Linked DNA regions of Homo sapiens. The protein of the gene in region 1 interacts with the protein of each later gene in a biochemical or structural test. Each region holds a gene or a part of one and is shown in the gene's direction. Other genes may lie near its edges. The genes, in order: DHRS12 and POLI.

Region 1 (3,921 bases):
TGGACTAGAATCCAGCTCAGCTGACTCCAGTTAAACGGGAACATTCCCTTGTGAACTCCATACTGCCCTTTGTTTGTGTGTGTGTGTTACTTGGCATCCAGGTGAGAGTGGAAGCTCATTTTGAGACAGGGTTTGGCTTTTCCTAAGACCTCCTCTTTAAATGTATATAATGTATACACTAACTACCTCGTGGATGCTTGATTTGAGGCTAACACTGGACACCTCATGCCCTCATGGAAATTTCTTGAATGTACACTGCATGGCTGTAAGCGCAGGGGAAAAAGGAATGAGAAGAAAACTTAAGGAGGGAAACCAACACTTCTGATCACTTTGTATGAAACTAAGCTCTTTATAATGAATGCCTTTAATCACAACCACCCCACGAGGTGCGCATATTCATTCCCATTTTACATATTAAGAAACCAAGACTGAGGGTGTATGCAGCATGCTCAGGTTCACCTGGCTAATGCAGAGAGCTGGGTTTGCAGCCACACTTTTACTTCAAGGGGCTGCTGACACCCTCCAAGAGACTTGGTGGTTCAAAACTATTTCTCATCCCCTCTCTGCGAGCCAAAAGCCTATTTCCTGAGGTGTTCAGAGAGATTCAGAGCAGATTGACACCTTTTCCATCACTGACACAAAGAGGAGGGTATAAAAAACAGTATGTAGCCCTGGGGATCTAAAATATTTTCCCAGCCAAATCGGACAGGCATTGAAAGTCACACAGGCTGGGGTGGTTTTACAAAATGCCACTTGTTTAAATTTCCTTTCATCACTCTGTCAGGAATAACAGCAACGTAGTGGAGCCTCAGAGTCCTGTTGAGAGGGGCGAGCTGTTCCGGGGAAATTTATTTCAAAAGTTATTCTGAAGTAAAAACTTGCCCACTGTGGAGTGAGGTTGGACAGTGATCCTATATCCTAGGTAATGAGGCTATTAAAGCAGCTGGTCTCTTCAGCTTATGTAAGTGGGGCCCAGTCTCTGGGCGACTTGGGTAAACCGGTATAGAATTTAACAGGGTGACTAGGAGTGACAGCAGCAGTAAGACCCCCATTTCTAATGTGGCGTTAGGGCTGGAGGTTAGATGTGGACAGGGGTGTCTGAGTCCTACATAATGGGGCTGGATGACTAGTCTGAGATCTGGGTTCACGCAGCAACCACACTCTTTTTTACTCACACTGTTCATCTGGGCTTGGGTGGAAAGAGGCTGATGAGGATTTGGGGGAAATCAAGGGGCTCTCCCTGGCATTGCATGAAGTCGCAGAACCAGTGGCAAAAGTCCAACTTTGGAGACAATTACTTCTCGGGTGGGAGCCCCAGCCCTGCCTCTTGCCTGCGATGTCGCCAATCTGACTGCGCTTGCTGGAGACGGGAAATGTGGCACGGCACTGCATCCCCCAACACGTGTAGAAACTTAGAGAATGCCAGTTATTAAAATAACCCTTATGATAACACCAATTCGATGCAGAAGTCTTTTAAATATCATAAGCCTCGTCGTTTTATTCCACATGGTTTTCTAGGTAACCAAATTCTAGGAGGTGCGTTGCAGGGCCATCTTCGCATCCCGGCCATGCCCAGCAGGACGGTGTTCTCTAAACGGCGCTGATGCCCGATTTCGACCCCGAGGAGACTGCGGACCTCGACTGCGGCCCCCACCAGGGCCGGTCCGCCCTCACTCCACCCTCTGAGGCTGGGGCGGAGTCGACCGGCCGGCCCCGAGACCCCTTGCCTTACCGGTGGAGCAAGGAACCGGAAGCCGCGGCTCTTACATAACCGGGATGATGTCAGGGCGGGCGACTCCCGGGGGGCGGGACCAGGGCGGAGGCCGCGCCGGGAGCGCGGTGGGGCTAGGCGTGGGGCGCTCCCGGCATGTCCCTGTACCGCAGCGTCGTGTGGTTCGCCAAGGGGCTGCGCGAGTACACCAAGTAAGGCGGCGCGGCGGGGCGCGGGGCCCCGGGCTGTCACGTGGCCCGCCTCGGCGCGGGCGAGCAGGGTTGGCGGGGACGCGCCCGCGGCTCCTTCGCCCTCTCGCTGGGCCGACTAAGCGTGTCCAGAACGACGGGTGCGCCCGCCGTCTAGCGACCCACGGCTGGGCGTGGGGCAGTCGCCAGACTCCAGCCGCTCAATGCCCGCGACCGAGACTGGCGCCCGAGGGGCGGGGCTGTGGCGCGCCCAAGCCCAGGGCCGTCCCACTGACGTCAGGCGGCCCCGGCGCCAAGGAGCCTCTTGGGCGGCACCTCGGCGCCCCGCTGGGTGTGCTCGTGGAAGTGTCTTCGTGGTGCTGCTGGCGGCGTCAGATAGGGCTGGATCTAAATCGCTAGCTAAGGCTCTGTCCTAGTGCCTTTGGGTGTGTTTCCTTTAAAAAGATGCAGCACCTGGACTGCGACCTTTGGCTCCAGCTGGAACTTTCCAGCCAGTGTGTGCTTCTGGGGAACGGTGCGTGGTGGTTTCGTCGCCCCGTGACCACGCTCAGTGTGCCCTAGTTGGCTCTCCACCTCATTGTGGTTTTAAGAGGTGACAGGTTCCTGTGACGGAGGAGAGATGGAGGTTTTCTCTTAGAATTGATTAGGCTAACCGCTGGTTCTCAACCCTGTCTGCACATCAGAATCACTGGGCGAGAATTAAAAGTACCCAGTTTTCAGGCCCCATCCCTACAGATTCTGATTTAGTGGATCTGCACAGGGGCCTGGACTGGCATTTCATCCAAATGCCCCAGGTGATTCTCACCTCTGAGAGGCTTCTCCCTGCACTGGGGCTTTATCAGTTCCCACGGCAACCTGGCCAGCACTCCTAGGGGAGGTAGGAGTTGCAACTCCCTGCTCTTCACCCCACATCGTTTTGGAGAAGGTTCAGCTCTGTCTCAGGAGCCCCTGCTGCAGAGAATGGTGGGGAGTGTAGTCGTGAGCCCTGTCCCACAGTTTTTAGGGGAATACAGTGGCAGCCTCTTTCTTTCAAAGGGGTGTCCTCTGGCAATGACCATTAATTGCTGGATCTTTCCACATTACACAGCATGAAAGCTTAAGTCAGTTTCCAACCAGGGGTGGGCCCCAAGGAAAGCAGACTGTAAAAATTTCTCCCAGGACTCTTTCGCTCTGATTTCCCCACCTTGAGGGAAGGTAGAAGTGAGGCCAAGGGGCCCAATCCACCACAGATTGGTGGGGGAAGGGAGGGGAGGGGAAGGCAGTTGGCAAAGTTAGATGGGTTTTCCTGCTGTTGTGGATTTAGTGAATAGGAGAGAAAAACAACAACCTTGTTTTGACTTCAGTGTGAGAGCGCGGAGTTAGAGTTTACAACGTTTCTCTTGGCACAAGGATTTTTATAAAGCCTCCCTATATTGGGCTCCTAAGGCAGGAGGATCTAATCACTGTTTCCTAAACTTTGCTGAACCTAATAATTCCCTGGGGCAGTTTTAAACAGACTCCTAAACCCTGGGCAAGTGTGGATGGGTCCTAAGCAAATTTCATATTTGGGTAAATTGAGGGTGTGGGGAGACACAGATACCTGCCAGCTTCCTCCTCCCCATCCCTGTCACCTCAGCTTCAGGAAACAGTAAGTACAAATGTCCTCTCAGCTTGAGTCAAAATCACTGGCAAGGCACATGAAACCACAGGTTGCCAAGCAATCACTTCTGAGTCAGTAGGCAGGGCATTTCCAACAGGTTTCCAGATGATGCTGATGCAGCTTGTCTGGGGACTGCCCTTTGGCACCGAGGCTGGGTGTTGAAGAAGATCACCTACCTTCTGGTGACCTTGGGAAAGTCGTGTGTGTGTGTGTGTGTGTGTGTGTGTGTGTGTGTGTGTGTGTGTGTGAAAAATAGAGACTGATATCTAGAGACTGATTTCTAGAGTGAAAATAAAATGCTTCCCCAATAAGGGGCAGAGTACATAAAAGACAAGTCTTATTAACAACAGATCGGACCAGGA
Region 2 (3,821 bases), on another chromosome or scaffold:
CAGAAACAAGCAATGGGGAAAGGATTCCCTATATAATAAATGGTGCTAGGAAAACTGGCTAGCCATATGTAGAAAGTTGAAACTGGATCCCTTCCTTACACCTTATACAAAAGTTAACTCAAGATGGATTAAAGACTTAAATGTTAGAACTGAAATCATAAAAACCCTAGAAGAAAACCTAGGCAATAGCATTTAGTACATAAGCATGGGCAAAGACCTCATGACTAAAACACCAAAAGCAATGGCAACAAAAGCCAAAATTGACAGATGGGACCTAATTAAACTAAAGAGCTTCTGCACAGCAAAAGAAACTATCAGCAGAGTGAACAGGCAACCTACAGAATGGGAGAAAATTTTTGCAATCTACCCATCTGACAAAGGGCTAATATCCAGAATCTACAAAGAAGTTAAACAAATTTACAAGAAAAAAGCAAACAACCCCATCAAAAAGTGGGCAAAGGATATGAACAGACACTTTTCAAAAGAAGACATTTATGCTGCCAACAGACATATGAAAAAATGCTCATCATTGCTGGTCATTAGAGAAATACAAATCAAAACCACAATGAGATACCAGCTCATGCCAGTTAGAATGGCGATCATTAAAAAGTCAGGAAACAACAGATGCTGGAGAGGATGTGGAGAAATAGGAACACTTTTACACTGTTGGTGGGAGTGTAAATTAGTTCAACCATTGTGGATGACAGTGTGGTGATTCCTCAAGGATCTAGAACTAGAAATACCATTTGACCCAGTGATCCCATTACTGGGTATATACCCAAAAGATTATAAATCATGCTACTATAAAGACACATGCACGCGTATGTTTATTGTGGCACTATTCACAATAGCAAAGACTTGGAACCAACCCAAATGTCCATCAGTAATAGACTGGATAAAGAAAACGTGTCACATATACATCATGGAATACTATGCAGCCATAAAAAAGGATGAGTTCATGTCCTTTGCAAGGACATGGATGAAGCTGGAAACCATCATTCTCAGCAAACTATCACCAGGATAGAAAACCACACACCACATGTTCTCACTCATAAGTGGGAGTTGAACAACGAGGACACATGGACACAGGGAGGAGAACATCACACACCGGGGCCTATCTGGATGGAGGGCTGAGGGAGGGATAGCATTAGGAGAAATACCTAATGTAAATGAAGAGTTGATAGGTGTAGCAAACTAACACGGTACATGTATACCTATGTAACAAATCTGCACATTGTGCACATGAACCCCAGAACTTAAAGTATAAAAGAAAAAAAATTAGGCCATTTTCAAGTTTTTCTTGAATTTTAATTTCTGCTAGGCCCTCTTTATCTCCCCATGATGTGCATGTAGCCCTTTCAGTAAGGAGTGTATGGGGAGCTTGGGCCCTCTGTGGCCTTCCATTTATTTGCATGTAGCCTCCTAGTCAACTAGGGTTGTACGGGGAGCCTATGTAGTCCCTCTTTGGTTCTCTCATTTCCAAATCTCCTGGTGACATATCTGGCTGGTCCACTGATCTGTCCTTCACCCGAACCACGACTGAAGCTTCAGACTAGCAGAGCTGTGGGATCTTCCCATTCGTTTCCTATCAAATTTGCTCATTTTACTGGCAACACTGCTGAGTGTGGGCTTTTGCCCACTGCCTCAAATCAGGTCTGTCCCCTCTGGAAGTGAAACTGCTGGCTTTTGCAGCCTTCACCCTGTACCAACTGAGCTATGTAAAGGGACATTCGAACAGTCCCAGACAGTGAAGCTGCTATCTCCTACTTTCTTAGCTAACATATAGCAGCTGTTCATAGATCAGTACTTCTCACTTTGTTTGCCTTTGGTTCATTTCCAGATTTCCACCAAAATGATTGTTTTTGACAATGTTGTTCAGTTTTATAGTAGCTTTTTGAGAGAGGATTTTCTGACCATATCAGTGTAGTATAACCAGAAATCCCATATTTCAAATCTTTTGAAAATTTTTAACCATTTAGTATTAATATTGAAATGTCTTAATTTGGTATATAATGTCAAGATGCCCAGTGATATTTAGGATTTTAATTTCTTAATCTCAGCAATATAAAATATATTATGCTCTTAATATTAATTATAATGTTTATTCTTAAACATTTTATTTAGGAAATTATGATGTGATGACCCCAATGGTTGATATACTTATGAAACTTTTTCGAAATATGGTGAATGTGAAGATGCCATTTCACCTTACCCTTCTAAGTGTGTGCTTCTGCAACCTTAAAGCACTAAATACTGCTAAGAAAGGGCTTATTGATTATTATTTAATGCCATCATTATCAACTACTTCACGCTCTGGCAAGCACAGTTTTGTAAGTACACTCTTTTTTGTTCAGTTTTCTAAGTATACTCTTATGGGATTTGTGTGGTTACATTACAAATCTAAGTGCTTGTCTTTTTGATATAGTTTAGAGATTCTTTTGGGTGATATTGTTTAGGTGATTAACTTGTTTATAATACCTATCTTATGGTTTCTGGCCTTAAATATGCTGTGATCTAAGAAGAAAACATAAGCATCACTGGATAAAAGAGAGAACCATTATGGAGGTTCTCTATTTTGGAATTGTTAACACATTTTATAGTATATAAAAATATGATGGATTAGCTCATAAGTATTAAAATATTTGCAGATATTAGAAATCACATCTTTTTGTCTTTTAGCTGACACATGAGCTACTAGTACCTTTCCCATGATTCTTTTGTTAAAGTATTTACATTTTCTTCATTTTGAAATAGTATTGAATTTTGATAGCAATATTGATAGATTTGACTACTGATTTCATAGTTGTAAAGTTAACAGTGTGGCAATAGAAAGGCAGAGGCCAGTCACATTTTCAGACGACTAAAACAAAACCCTTTTATTAATAGACAAACCACTATTTAGTAAATGTGGGTTGCCTTAAAAACAATTATTTTTTACTAAATTGTTCATGCCTATAATTAACTCAATTTAAAATACTTTTGTGTTTGTTTAGTCAGTATAATTTTAGTAACCTTTTCATTTTCATTTAAGTTTAAAGTGAGAACAGGATAGTGTATGGAAATAGTGAATTAATGCTCTCTTCAAATTACTTTTTTCTGTGACCCTTCTTATTCCATTTATTAAATTTAAAAAAGTGTTTTCTTTTTACATTTTAATTAATCTGTGAAATTGGAATTAAAAGTGCTCATTTATAGTGGCATTAGAAAAGTAAATATAAGTGAAAGTACCTTGTATGTATTTGTCACACAGTAGGTAGTCAATAAATATAAGGGCCTGAATCTTTTCTACTACTTTTACTTTTTTGGAGTTCATATTGTGTTGATGTTTACGGAGTTATATTTGACTATGTTTATATTTTTATGGTGCTTGAAACTAAAGGATTTAAATGAAAAACTGTATAGAAAAATTATGCAAGTTAGAGTTGAAAGTGTCTTTAAATTTTTATTTTATATAAATATAAACTAGTACTATATCTTGATGATGTTGGGTTTTGTTATAGGCTTTTTTTTTCTTTTTGTTAAAAGTTACCCTTTAGAATAGTAATTTTTGGAAAACTAGCCCTTGATGCTATATGTGTATGTTTTTTTGAAAAATACCCTTAGGTGAACTTGCTTTTCTAGGCCGCCATTCTTTTATTTATAGAATTGAAAGTTTGGTTGCATGATTGTTACAATCTTCCCAGGTCTCCAAATGCATATTTACCTCTGTCTCAGTGCTATCTAGGAAGGAAACCTCTTCCTGGAATAGTGGGTAGAGATTCACAAAATAGTGTGAATAATTGTGGTAGTAGATCTCTAGTTGTTTGGAACTGGCCACAAAG

Evidence for each region.
Region 2: the proteins of DHRS12 (region 1) and POLI form a complex in vitro, tested with the Homo sapiens proteins (one large-scale study listed by BioGRID).

What each region holds. Positions count from the first base shown.
Region 1 is NC_000013.11:51,802,056-51,805,976, reverse strand, and holds the start of DHRS12 (dehydrogenase/reductase SDR family member 12), read left to right. Parts: upstream 1-1,813; 5' UTR 1,814-1,867; coding exon of another isoform or gene 1,868-1,923; exon of another isoform or gene 1,924-2,141; intron 2,142-2,241; exon of another isoform or gene 2,242-2,434; intron 2,435-3,921. UniProt on the Homo sapiens protein: Putative oxidoreductase.
Region 2 is NC_000018.10:54,289,709-54,293,529, forward strand, and holds part of POLI (DNA polymerase iota isoform a (long)), read left to right. Parts: intron 1-2,124; coding exon 2,125-2,330; intron 2,331-3,821. UniProt on the Homo sapiens protein: Error-prone DNA polymerase specifically involved in DNA repair. Plays an important role in translesion synthesis, where the normal high-fidelity DNA polymerases cannot proceed and DNA synthesis stalls. Favors Hoogsteen base-pairing in the active site.